2 linked regions of the Homo sapiens genome follow. The protein of the gene in region 2 purifies or fractionates together with the protein of the main gene of each other region. This does not show direct contact. Each region holds a gene or a part of one and is shown on either strand. Other genes may lie near its edges.

Region 1 (7,000 bases), on a different chromosome or scaffold from region 2:
TTATTTGCTGAATTCCATTTAAGTATGTACATACCAGAGATACCTATAATCATGATAAGGCTTATTACTATTTATAATTTTAAAGAAAAGTTATAAATATATAGAATTACTATAAGCTATAAAAACACCAAGTGAAATTACATCACAACTTTTTAAAAAAATGTGTTAAAATCTTGACTAATTAGTAAAATTGATATAAAGTATCAGCTAATGAAAAGTTACATGAATAAATTCTAACAGTTTACTTCAGCCAGACATTTAAAACTGAGTTTAAAAATGTACCAACCAGATGCTTGTTATATGTATTACACAGTCTACCAATTCCCTAAAAACATTCACTACAAGGTCTGAAAACTTTAAAATCTTTTCTTAAATGACATAATGTAGATGGATGTACAATTTCAGTAGCCATTAAGGGGGTTAGCTATACAATGAGGCTACTGAAAGATGATATACTATGTTCCTGTATTTAGTGATTTTGAAAGATATCTTAAGTATATTAAGTGGAAAACAAGAATAATGAAGTAATTATATAATATAACCCTACTTTTAAAATTATATATACATATGTATATACTAGATGTTAAATCATCAATGGGTAGTGAGATTATGTGATTAATATTTTCTTATAATTTTCTAGGCCAGGTGTGATAGCTCACACACACCTATAATCTCAGCACTTTGGGAGGTTAAGGAAGGAGAATTGCTTGAAACCAGGAGTTCTAGATAAGCCTGGGCAACAAAGTGAGACCCCGTCCCTACAAAAAATATAAAAATTAACTGGGCGTGGTGGTGCATGCCTGTGGCTCCAGCTTCTTGGGAGGTTGAAGCAAGAGGATTGCTTAAACCTAGGAGTTCAAGGCTGCAGTGAGTTATGATCTTGCCACTGTACTCCAGCCTGGACCACAGAGTGAGACCCTCTCTTTAAAAAATGAATAAATAAATATAAAAGTTCCTATATTGTCAAAGTTTTACTTGCAGTCAGTAGAGGGGGTAAGGAGGTTATTTCTATTTTGGGGAAAATAATTTTGCTTAGTTATCTAAAATAAGTAACAATCTCAGGACTAAAAATATAAATACTTCACATTTTAAATCCTCTTAACACATAACTTTTTTTTTTTTTTTGAGATGGAGTTTTATCACCCAGGCCGGAGTGCAGTGGCATGATCTCAGCTCACTGTAACCTCTGCCTCTCGGGTTCAAGTGATTCTCCTGCCTCAGCCTCCCAAGTAGCTGAGATTACAGGTGCTCACCACCACGCCCAGCTAATTTTTGTATTTTTAGTAGAGAAAGGGTTTCACCACATTGGCCAGGCTGGTCTTGAACTCCTGACCTCAGGTGATCCACCCACCTCAGCCTCCCAAAGTTACAGGCGTGAGCCACCGCACCCAGCCAACATGTCACTTATTAAAAATGATCAAAGAGGAAAGAATTTTTGCAATATGAGGAACATTCATATTGGTAGCTAACAAGGAAATGCGCTTGTAAGCTTCTGGGTAGTGAACTGGATAGATATTATCAGATGTGGAACCAAACTCGGTTCTTGTTTTCATGCCAGAGAGAAAAACAAAATAAATCAAAGCAAGCATCTATTGTTTGCTAGAAGTCTAATTTATAAGGAAATAAATATTTGGTTATTAATTTGAAATTCTGAGGTTTAGGGAGCTGCCCCATAAACAAACTCAGATTTTAGCTCTTGCTAAGAATTCCTATCAGTGTATTTGGCTATGAATTTGAATATATTAACTAGTTGTACTCCAGACCAACTCTACAGGGATTATCCAGTTGTTATTCCACGTGTAGACACATAGAAATTCTTTTTCTTATTTGTTTCTGAAAATTACACTCTCAAAACTGGGTCATTCTAGTGTAATCACAGTGCCATATAAGGGGAAGCGTGTAATTAGTGCACATAACGCCTTTATCAGAATCCCTAATATTAATGAGCCCTGAACTGAGAATTATCTGTAGGATGCCAGAGCCCTTAGCCAGTAACCAAGATACAATATAATTTTAAAATCTTTACTTTCACTACTAGAGGTAATGGTTATGATAATTTTTCAAACTGGGCTTTCTTTCTGTGCTGAAATCTGTTTCCACAGCCCTAAAAATCTGAAGTTTTCCTCTTCTTTTCTAGGAAACCTCAAAGGTAGATCTCCTCACCATTACAAGAACAATTATATTTATAATTCAAGCTGAGTTGTGACTCCACTTTGCCCTACATGGGGTTTAAAGATGGTAAAACTGAACTCCATTCTCATTTGAAAGTACCTGTGAGTAAACATTTTTTCCCACAGCACAGCACTGGCCATTGCTAACTGACTCCCTGCCAGCTTCTATAACAATGGATTTTGGACTCTTCTAATTTTTAAAATTTAGGTCCTAGAATATACTTATCATTTTAATTCAACATGTAAGAAATCAAATGGATTTCGAAGACTCAGAAGTCATTGTTTCTTCAGTGTTCAAACCCAATGCCCAGACTTACACTCAGGTGACATGAGTGTGATCAGCCACGTGTGGGAACTAAAACAGCCTCTTCCCAAGTAGAGGTTTGGAGAGATTATGATGGAGTCAATAATGACTCTCACATACCCTCTGGGCATTCACAAACAGCTTGTGAATGATCCTGCCAGCATGTCCTCTTCCTGCACCGGTGACTAACACTTCAGGCTGCTCCAGCAGGCAACTCACAAACCTAGGAGACAGAGACAGGCAATGAAAGGGTGGAAAGTGAGCTGTCCAGGCCACTGGGCGTCCATCCTCCCACAGGAGTTTTGTGGACAAATCCTCAAGCTGATACTGGCTAAACCCAACAAGGTTGGAGTGAAATTTTACAGCAAGATAAGATTGACATTTGGAATTATTATCGACTTAACTGACAATCTTCCTGCTTTTTCACCTGTGCTCATAAAAAATGTTTAAAGCCTATCTCTGTCAAAGTGTAAGAAAAAATATTCAGTCTATTTTTTTCAGACTAGAAGCTTAGAAAATGCTACAGTTAATAAAAGATGAAAAAAAAATTGTATAATATAAACCAAGTTATATTTATCCAATAAAAGCAATGATCCATATTTGTTTTTGTTTTTTTTAAGGGGTATGTGTCTGTGTGTGCACGCACACGTGCACATATGCTTAAAATACTTGTGTTGGGCAAAGTCGCAATTGTAAACTGTGCCATTAGATGCTGGAAACACTGAACTTCCAAGTATGTCACAGATAACGTATGGTGGAACTAACAGAGTTGAAGGCACAAAGCCACCAAACCTGCACCACCTGCTCACTAATTCATACTCTACTATTTTAGAAACGAGTCCCTTGATTAGAGCTTATTCTTCTCATTTAAAAGGAAGACATTTTCAAGAGCAAAGCAGTGTGGGAGAAAACTTCACCTAACAAAAGACATAAAATTCAAACACAAACTTGTTAAAAGACAGCAAATGCCTTGCCATACAATATTAATTATTTAGCATCAATAATGCCATTTATTATGGAAAGGCTAATGAAAATTTTTAAATGATGACAAATTTAAGCCACTGAACAAGCTAATTTGTGAACACTTTATCACACATTAAAACAATATTGTCCTTCCAAATAACATGGGCAAAAAATGAACAGGGCCTCACACTGATCTAAGCTCCATTGGTAATGGTGCCGAGTCTCATAAAGAGAATGCCCCAATCATTTGCTTCATCTGAGAAAAGCCATCTGGTCAATCTTTCAAAACATAATCGCAAGGCACATAGGATGTGCACCTTTGCTATCACAAATCTTGTTTAAAATAAACAACTAGGAACAGTAAGCAGAAATGGTTTCAGCACCTGCACCCTGTGGTCAAGGAATAGTAACAGCTGAAAACAAAGTTTTGGGGCAGGGTGAGCAACACAGTTAACAGCTCCTCCACAAGAAATTCCAGACACCACATCTCCAAGAGCAAACCAAGGAATCCCTAGAAAAGGAGGCTCTGGGAGACTGTTTCTAAAAGTGGGAAGAATGGAAACACCTGGTAGAGACTCAGAAATACGGGAGAGGTCAAATGCTATGATAATTATTTCTGTCTCTAGACAATGCTTGTTTCAAATAATATATGATTACCACAAAAGAGTCTTAATATCCTATTACAATTTTTCTTAAGAGAGTGGTGGCTTTTCCTACTGCAGACAAAACTGAATTAGCCAAATAGCAATTACCTTTCAAGATCTTCCTTTTCCTCCTCCTGTTCACATTTCTCAGTTCCAAACTTGGCTTTTAGTGACCGAGCTCTGGCAATGAGAGCTTCCACATTAGTAATCTGGTGAATGATTTCCTGGCGGTAGAAAAGGAAGAGGCATACATTGCGAGATGGCAAAAAAGCAAAGCCCTTTGAAAACGCATCTTAAAAATTATTTTTGCCAACTGAGGAGAACACTTGGCAAGATTCTGACACTACATCAAACTTACTTCCAATTTCTTGTCTTCTGGATTGGGGAAGTGCAAAACTTTACTGGAATGGGATATTATCTGCTTTATGATCTTCTTAACTGAAGAAATGTTTTCGAGACTTTCTATTTTAGAAAAGATTGAAGCCAGCATTAAATAAATTAAGCAAAATATACTTTCACTTTGGAAATGACTAATGACTAGTTAAATATGACATTTACCTTCTTCCTTTACCTTGAGTACAGCTGCATGAATCACACAAGGTAACAGGTGCCGAGCAAGGTCTGCAGGTTTCTGGATTGCCAGATAGTGCAGCACCTGAAGGAGGTGCAGCGCACACAAATGATCAGCGCAGGTGTCAAAGGATGAAGCAGCCACTTACAGAAGTGCAAATCCTCAGCCACTCATCTTAATCCTTAACAAGACAGCACTCCAGATAGGCAGCCACGACCCCAAAGGTGAGGATAATGTTACTGAAAGCACCTAAGAACTTCAATCTTTAATAATTATAAATATTCTATTTTTTTCTGCTTTCTTATGTAATACACACAAATAAGGAAAATACAAAGAAAATAAAAACTACCGACTGATTACAATACCAAGAGAAAACAACCATTGACAGTGGAGCATTTTCATTTTAAGACGCAGAATACACGTACTAAGGGCACTAATATTAAATATGTAAAATACTGCCTTTTAACCTGCTTTTCTCACTTAATATTTCTAAACATTGTTAGTGACTTCCCACACATTTTTTGGTTTTAGTTGTTTTGGTTTATTTTTTTTCCAATTCTTATTATAAGAATACAGAGAAGTATGTACAAAACATGGACCCTACCTTTAGGCTCCTTATTCAACAGTAAAGATAAAAGAAGTATAACCCTATAAATATGTACAATTCTTTTACATCAATAAAAATTTTAAGAAGTATAATCTCATAATGTGAGTCTGACTGATAAATGCTCATGGATTTCAAAATTTTAAAAAAAATACAGGTGATGCAGAAATTTTCCTGAAATCCTACTTCCCCAAAACCACATTTTCGTGTTTATCCTCTCAAACTACTTGTATGTCCATTTAAACACAAAAATGTAGATGCATATGTAATTTCTTAACAAAAATTAATAACTTACATACTGTTTTATTATTTGCTTTATTTAATGACTTGTGGTGGACTTTTTTTTGGCTTAGAGAGTTTTGTCTGATTTGAAACTTTTTTTAAATTAAGAAATATACATACTAGAGTATTAGAAATAGTTTAAAGAAAACACCAGCTTAGGAAACAGAATGTTACCAGGCTTTTCCAAGTCCTCCTGTGTACCCTCCATCCCCAGAATTAACTACAAATCATTCTTTTGCTTTTCTTTATGGTTTTTTTCACATATGTAGCCTTAAATAATATATTGTTTACTTTTGTCTAGTTTTAACCTTTATATTAATGGAGTGTTTCTGTTTATAGCCCTCAGTGACTTGCTTTTTTTCATTCAGTATTTTGATATTCGTATACCATTCCAATATGCTATAGTTTACTCATTTTCACTGCTGTATTAAAATGTTCCTACACTAATAGTAGTGGATAGCTCCTCAGTTTTTGGCTATTACAAATGATGCTCCTATTACATTATTGCACATATTTCCTGGTGCAAATGGGACATGTACAGCAATTACTTTAGGATATATACCTAACAATTGAACTAGGAAATGTACAACATAATTATCCTACAAAGTGTTTCAACAGATTTACATTCTTATCTAGAGTAATGAGTTCCCTCTGTTGTACATCCTTGCTAATACCCACCTTTCTGAATTTTGTTTTCCCCTGATTCACAGAAAAACAAATTTGCAGGAATAACGTGAAATATGTGATTCCCCTTTACCTGGATTCACGTATGACCTGTCTCCCTCCTCTGTTCTGGATCCCTTGCATCTTTCTCTGCTTTCATGTGTGTACATACTATAGACATAAACTTGTTTCGAATAATTTCAGAATAAGTCGCACACTCATGTCCCTTATCCCAAAATATCTGTATTTCCTAAAATTAAAAATATTTTATTATATAATCAAAATGCAAATGATTCTGATTATATACAATAAATTTAACACTGATAAAAATAATTGTAATCTAACCTACTATCTTTATTGCAGTTTTGTCAACTGATCCCATATGTGTCTTTTTTTTTTTTTTTTTTTTTTTTTTGAGACAGGGTCTTTCTCTGTTGGCCCAGACTGGAGTGCAGTGGTGCGATCTTGGCTCCCCACAACCTCCGCCTCCCAGGCTCAAGCGATTCTCCTGCCTCAGCCTCCTGAGTAGCTAAGACTACAGGCACATGGCCACTACTGCCCGGCCAATTTTTGTATTTTTAGTAAAGACGGAGTTTCACTATGTTGGCCAGGCTGGTCTCGAACTCCTGACCTCAAATTATCCACCTACCTCAACCTCCCAAAGTGCTGAGATTACAGGCATGAGCCACCGCGCCCGGCCGCAAAATGTGTCTTTTATGACCCTTTCCCTCAACCACTACAAGTCTTGGTAAGGATCATCCATTGCCTTTAGTTATCATAGCTCTTTAATCTCAACTA
Region 2 (7,153 bases):
GCCACCACGCCCAGCTAATTTTTGTATTTTTAGTAGAGACGGGGTTTCACCATGTTAGCCAGGCTGGTCTCGAACTCCTGACCTCATGATCCGCCCGCCTCGGCCTCCCAAAGTGCTGGGATTACAGGCGTGAGCCACTGTGCCCGGCCCGGGGTCTGGTTTTATTCTGCATATAGCTATCTGGTTTTCCCAGCACCATTTATTGGAGAGAGTGTCCTTTCCCCAGTGTATGTTTTTGGCATCATTGTCCAAAATGAGTTGGCTATAAATGTGTAGATTTACTTCTGGGTTCTCTATTCTGTTTCATTGGCCTGTGTGTGTGGTTTTATGCCAGGATCATGCTGTTTTGGTAACTATTGTTTTGTAGTATATTTTGAAGTACTGCTTTGTTCTTTTTGCTGAGGGTTGCTTTGGCTATTCACAGTCTTTTGTGGCTCCTTACAAATTTTAGGATCTTTTCTCTCTTGCTTTTAAGAATGTCATTGGTATTTTGATGGGGATTGCATTGAATCTGTAGATCACTTTGGGTTAGTATGGACATTTTAACAATATTATGTCTTGTAATCCATGAGCTTGGAATCTTTCCATTTTTGTATGTTCTCTTCAATTTCTTTCATCTGTGTTTTATAATTTTCATTGTAGAGATCTGTCACTTCTTTGGTTAAATTTATTCCTAAATTTTTTATAGCTATTGTAAGTGAGATTGCTTTCTTGATTTCTTTTTCAGATTGTTTCCTGTTGTTGTATATAAATGCTACTGATTTTTGTATGTTGATTTTGTATCCTAAACTTTACTGAAATCATTTATCAGTTCTAATAGTTTTTTTTTTAATGGAGTCTTTAGCTTTTTCTAAATATAAGATCATGTTGTCATAAACAAGGATAATTTGACTTCTTTTTTTCTAACTTGGATGTCTTTTATTTCTTTCTCTTCCCTAACTGCTCTGGCTAGGACTCCCAGTACTATGTTGAATAAAAGTGGTACAATTGGGCATCCTTGTTTTACTCCAGAACTTAGAGTAAAGGCTTTCAGTTTTTCCCCATTTAGTATGCTGTCAGCTGTGGGTTTGTCATATATGGCCTTTATTGTTTTGAGGTGTGTTCTTTCTATACCCAATTTGTTGAGGGTTTTTATCATGAAAGGATGTTGAATTTTATCAAATGTTTTTTCAGCATCTCTTGAAATGATACGATTTTTGTTATTCTGTTAATGTAATGTATCACATTTATTGATTTGCCCATGTTGAACCATTCTTACATCCCTGGGATAATCCCACTTGATCACGGTGAATGATCTTTTTAATGTGTTGTTGCATCTGGTTTTCTAGTATTTTGTTAAGGATTTTTGCATCTATGTTCATCAAGCATATTGACCTATAGTTTTTTTTTGTTGTTGTATACTTGTCTGGTTGTGGTATCAGGGTAATGCTGTTCTTGTAGAATGAGCTTGGAGGTATGTTCTCCCCTTCAATTTTTTTGAATAGTTTGAGTAGAAGTGGTGTTTTAAATCTTTGGTAGAATTCAGCAGTGAAGCCCTCAGATCCTGAGTTTTTCTTTGATGGGAGACTTTATTACTGTTTCAGTCTCATTACTCATTATTGGTTTGTTCAGGTTTTCTATTTCTTCATGGTTGAGTCTTGGTAGATTGTGTGTGTCCAAGAATTTATCCATTGCTTCCAGGTTTTCCATTTTGTTATAGTGTTCATAATAGTCTCTAATGATTCTTTGTATTTCTGTGGTATCAATCGCAATGTTTCTTTTTGTCTCTGCTTTTATTTCTTTTGCACATTCTTAGTAGCTCCTTTTTATATCTCTATAATCATTTAATTATAATATAAAATATTATTGGTCTTTACTCTTATGGGGTTTTTAACACTTTTGTTGCTTATATTTTTTTTCCCCTGTAATTGTGAGGACAAAAAATAATTTATTAATTCTAAGTATAATCAGATTATTTTCTTGTTCTTCCTTCACTGTGTAAAAATAGTATGCTTGACTCCCTTTCTAACAGCAGACAGTGATTCTTGACTTTCCCCATATTCTTCCCTTCCTCTCCAGTTCTGATGACATTGCACATTATTATGTGTGTGGTTTTTGAGACATTCATTAGCCAAAGAGAAAGTTAAAATATACCTTACATATATGAGATGAACAAATTTGTAGGATTAAGCAATGTAGATCCAAAGGTTGGTTGATTTTAAAGTTCTTTTAAGTGTTCATGTATTTAATGCTTTCACTTAATTGACATTTGTGAATGTCAGTATGCATTATAAAGGTATTAGGTTTCATAACTTTAACATGTACATATATTGAAGTCATGGCATTTTATGTGTGTTTTTTTTCTTTTATAGAGTGAGTCTTTGGTTGTTTGTGATGTTGCCGAAGATTTAGTGGAAAAGCTGAGAAAGTTTCGTTTTCGCAAAGAAACGAACAACGCTGCTATTATAAGTAAGCTAAAAGTGATTGCCTCAAAGTTACATGGTCTTAATTTGTTTTTAATCTTGTAGCTACATTGAATGAACTGAACCGTTGGAAAGCAATGTTACTTCCTCTGTTTCATTTCCCCACCACCACCTTTAGATCACTTTAAAAAATAAGTAACAGCTAATTCTAATGTCACAGAACAGAGGTGGATTGTCCCACCTCCCCCATAGTCCTTTTATCAGCTGCCTGTACAGCTCTGGAGAAGGCGGTCGTCTTGGTCCTTGGGTAATGAGGATTCCCATCTGCAGTGACCCATCCAACCCATCCTTCTTGGGGGACTAAAAATAGCCTGGCCATTCATCCTCAAATAGAAACCTTTGCCTACACCTAAAATGACAAAGTTCAGCATTGTGTACATAGTGACTTTGGGCATTATTCCAGTTGTAGATTTGAACTCTGGTTTCAGGAAGAGTACTTTTAAGTGGCACTGGCACTATCTTCTGAAAATGGAAAAAGTGATTTGCATATTGCTCCTCCCACTGTGAGCTATATCTGACATTATGCAGATTTCCCTTGTATTCATAGGCAGTATTTAATATGTAGGTAGTGATTTAGAAAGATGAGGAAAGGATGAGGGGGTGAAAATGTAAAACTCTAGAGACCATGCTTAACAGAGATGCATCTGGCAGATGTGATTTAATCAGAGGTCATGACAACTTGTCATGAATTCTGATTTCATTATAAATAAATACTGCAATGTCGACATATGGTTCTTAAAAGTGAAAAAAAAATAAAAGTGAAAATGTGTGTTAGTGCCATTTACTGCAAAAGCTGAAACTATTTGAGATTACATTATATCTCACAAGATTTACTATCAAATTGGTGCAAAACCAAACATGGTCAACTTTGCCAGACTAACAGGAAAGGATAGAGGCATAGAGTATCTAAACTTATTTTGATTTAGCTTTGGATTACATTAGATATATTTGAATGTAGATATCACTTCTATTTGGTTATTCACTTTCTTAGAATAATGATACCGTGCCATGAAATCCTGACCTTGGAGAAGCCAGGAATTTTGAGGTTTCTCTATTTTGATCCCCGATCAGGCACTTTTTCCCTTGCAGTTCTGACCATGTTGCATATAGACCAATCAGTTACAGTTACCCTTTCAGGCTTTTTCTTATTATCTAGAAGTTGGATTTGAGTTACAAAGTTCTTTCATATACACAGGAAATGTAAGAAATTAACAGCAAGTTCTAAATAAGCAAATTAGGTACTGGGAATTATGGGTAAAAGCTTTTAAAAGCTGACAGCTTGAAAAGCAAAGCTAGCTAATAAACCGTAAACTAAAACTGTGAATTAGTTATATGCTTCTGTTTCTTGATGTTTTAATTTTAGATGTCCGAAAAAAAAGGCTGAGATTGTGTGGGTTGGGCAGATCAGGGTCACATTAGAATCCCAGCTTACTCATACTTGATTTTTATTTTAGTGAAGATTGACAAGGATAAACGCCTGGTGGTACTGGATGAGGAGCTTGAGGTTTGTTCAATGAACTAAATACAATTTTATAGTTAAGTAATTATTATTTCTCAAAAGATGCTATATTAGTTACATATGCTTCTAAAACGAATCTTGAACCTCCTTTAAATACATGCTCATTATGCATAAAAGCATGTGCTAATTGTGTAGTTTGTGATATTGCTAATTTAACTACCTTGTTTAAAAGCATTAGTGAAGTCCAGTGTAATAAGTGGTATAAGTTGGGGTCATATACTGAGTAAGAAGTGAGTCAACTTTGTAACTTGCTTCTAAGTTGCTTGACTAGTACTTAAAACCTGAAACCCTACAATTTAAATATCTGGTTTGTCAAATTAAGTAACTAGAGTAAAAAGAATTCAATTCTTTTTTCTGAAATCAGACATTGTTTCTTTCCGCTAAGATACTGGCTTATGTCATTCAGTATTTCCTGACAGCTGGGACATAAGCATAGAATCTGTGCCTCCCAGCCCCATATTTACTTAATAAATGGAATGAAACCAAGTGGGCAGAAGGAGGCTTTGATTGGATTGAGAATTTAGTAACCTGAGTTTATGTATAATTTAGTAAGATAAAATTTTATTTTGTAGCATGTGGTAATAAATTTATAACTGTTAGTAGAATGGGTGCTTGGTGTATCTCTTAAGGACTTATGGGTAAGAAAATGTTTAAAAGTTGCTTTTCTCTGTGGTGCCAGGGCATTTCACCAGATGAACTTAAAGATGAACTACCTGAACGACAACCTCGATATCCTTTTCTTAGTGCTTTAAAAGATTTATTTTCTTTAGTGGTCAGACCTGTTTGTGAGCTCATTTGTTAAACATCTAAAAGTATCCTTCTGTGTCATGATGACAGCCAAATTAAAATATGTGTGCATATACTAGACTAAGAAAAATGAAAAGTTGGTTTATTCGTGGGATGAATAATTTTCTTTTTAAAACTATTTCCTTTATTATAACGTGTACAATAAAAATTGAGAAAATAATCTGTATTAAACTTGTACTTTAAAAAGTTAAATTTTTTGAGAGATTATGTGATTTTATAACTTATCCTTGGAACCCATTTAATTTTGTGGAAAGATAATAATGAAGGTGTGGCCTAAAAGAATAGGACAGAAACTTGCAGCTCAGTAGCTCCCCAGGTGTTGGTAAATACCTGTCTGAGAGCAGTAACTTTAGTTTCTTTAACTTGAGAAAAACCTTCATTGTGTATAGTTATAAATATCAACATGATGATGGAAGAGTTTCATATCCTCTGTGCTTTATTTTCTCCAGTCCTGTTGGTAAGTGAATTTCTTTAAATAACACATATTTGGCTTAGATCCAATTAAGCCATTTTATACTAGACAAATTTTCTGCTGTTTTTAAAGATGAACATTGTTGAATAACCTAAATTGAGGAGGGTCTGTGTCTATGTGTGTCCATGTGCCTGTGTGCATGCATCCCTAGAAAGAATGAAGCATCATCTCTTAGAACTTATTTTCTTAGGATAAATTTCTAGACGTGTAATTGTTGACTCAAATCATACATGTATTTTAAGGATTTTGAAACGTGATGACATTCTAATATAGCAGAAGTATTTTCTTTTTATATTTTAATCATATAAAAATGTGAACTTCACATATAATTGCATATATTTGTGTTTCTTTTAAATAGTAGTTAACAGTGATATGCTTATAATCTTGAGAATGGTCCTAGAGTAATTTACATTGGGTATTAAAATGGGTTACTGGTATTTAAGGAATTCATTATCACCAGAACTTCTATCACCACTGTTCAGGCCTGCAATAAAAACTGCATTCACTGAGCTATTCTCCAAACTTCATAATTTGTATAATTTACTTCCCACTCAAAATATACTGCAGTATATTTTTAACTTAATATATCGGCAGAGTGAAACTTTTATCAGAGCAGATCTCCCTGCCCTACTGGTCCACTACCATCCCAAAACCTTGTGTATTTTAGTCATCCATAAAATTGATCTTGATATTTAGTGTCAAAGTTAAGATAGTGCAGAAAGTTTTTAATTGTTTGCAAGGCTCTAAAAGTCAGGATCTACAAATGTCTAGAATCTTTATTTTTGCCAACCTGTAGACTTGTTCTTGTTTATTTATAACTTAACTGTCTCTTTCTGTAGGCAGTGTGCAATGTAAGACTCAAAATACAACCCATATATATTCTGTAAACTCAATAGCAAAGGAAATCCTAAATGTGTCATTTTAAAAAATAAAAATAATGATAACCCATACCTTTCTCAAAATCTGTGTCTCATTTCTACACTAATCTCTCTTTTCCAGGATGTAAGCCTGAACAACAGATGATGTATGCTGGAAGTAAGAATAAGCTAGTCCAGACAGCTGAACTAACCAAGGTGGTATTTATATTTGACTGACTTGTTGAGACAATATTTTCCTTTAGACTATAAAGCAATAGCTAAAATAGTCTAAAGGAGTATTTTTTATGCAGGTGAAGGTTATTTAGACCAGATTAGTAAGTTAGCCAAAGCTTTTTGTTAACTGGAAATAGAATGAGATAGAAGCGTTTGAACCAAAGTGTATTTTTTGAATAAGTTGATTGGAAGAAATCACATTCAAAATATAGGCAGTGTTAGAAAGCCACTGTAACTATTAAATCTATTGAGAGTTAGTTTATCTGCCATAAGGTAATTTCTAATAGATAAGGGTCAGCATTGAAGTTTCTCTGAACCCTTTACCATAGTCTAAAATGAACCGAGTTCTGTGCTGGAATTCAGTATTATGCAGTTAATTGTATTGTTTCCAAATATAAAATTGTTAAGAATATTAATAAAGTTAGAACATTCTGTTTTATATGAGAACTTGCTTTAAGATTTAACATGTCCCTATTTTATGGTATTTTTGAAAGTTAAAGGTAAGAGGTACTTGGCTCTCAAACTTTATTTAACTTCCACATATTAGTTTGAATTGAAAAAGTATATGCACTTAAGGTTTTGAAATAGGATATTATATTGCCAAAACTGTGTTAGACAGTATTTCCTTTCAAGTTTTATTTTAAGAACAGCATCAGTATTTTCCCCTTGGGTGCTTAATAATCAACTCTGGAATGCCTTTAAGTGCCCTCTGCTGTTTCCCCTTAGCCCATGTGATTGTTACCACTGCTTTATAGACATTACTTTTTCCTGATTTGTAACACAGGGACACTGGAGTTGCTCT

The links. Proteins that work in one complex are often made in the same cells at the same time.
Region 1: the proteins of GMFB (region 2) and RAB3GAP1 purify together in Homo sapiens (co-immunoprecipitation; 2 studies listed by BioGRID and IntAct, with this or other methods). This does not show direct contact.

The regions. Positions count from the first base shown.
Region 1 is NC_000002.12:135,160,292-135,167,291, reverse strand, and holds part of RAB3GAP1 (rab3 GTPase-activating protein catalytic subunit), read right to left. Parts: intron 4,738-7,000; coding exon 4,641-4,737; intron 4,545-4,640; coding exon 4,441-4,544; intron 4,307-4,440; coding exon 4,191-4,306; intron 2,699-4,190; coding exon 2,596-2,698; intron 1-2,595. UniProt on the Homo sapiens protein: Catalytic subunit of the Rab3 GTPase-activating (Rab3GAP) complex composed of RAB3GAP1 and RAB3GAP2, which has GTPase-activating protein (GAP) activity towards various Rab3 subfamily members (RAB3A, RAB3B, RAB3C and RAB3D), RAB5A and RAB43, and guanine nucleotide exchange factor (GEF) activity towards RAB18.
Region 2 is NC_000014.9:54,478,966-54,486,118, reverse strand, and holds part of GMFB (glia maturation factor beta), read left to right. Parts: intron 1-2,351; coding exon 2,352-2,448; intron 2,449-3,916; coding exon 3,917-3,966; intron 3,967-4,660; coding exon 4,661-4,710; intron 4,711-5,162; coding exon 5,163-5,245; intron 5,246-6,259; coding exon 6,260-6,333; intron 6,334-7,153. UniProt on the Homo sapiens protein: This protein causes differentiation of brain cells, stimulation of neural regeneration, and inhibition of proliferation of tumor cells.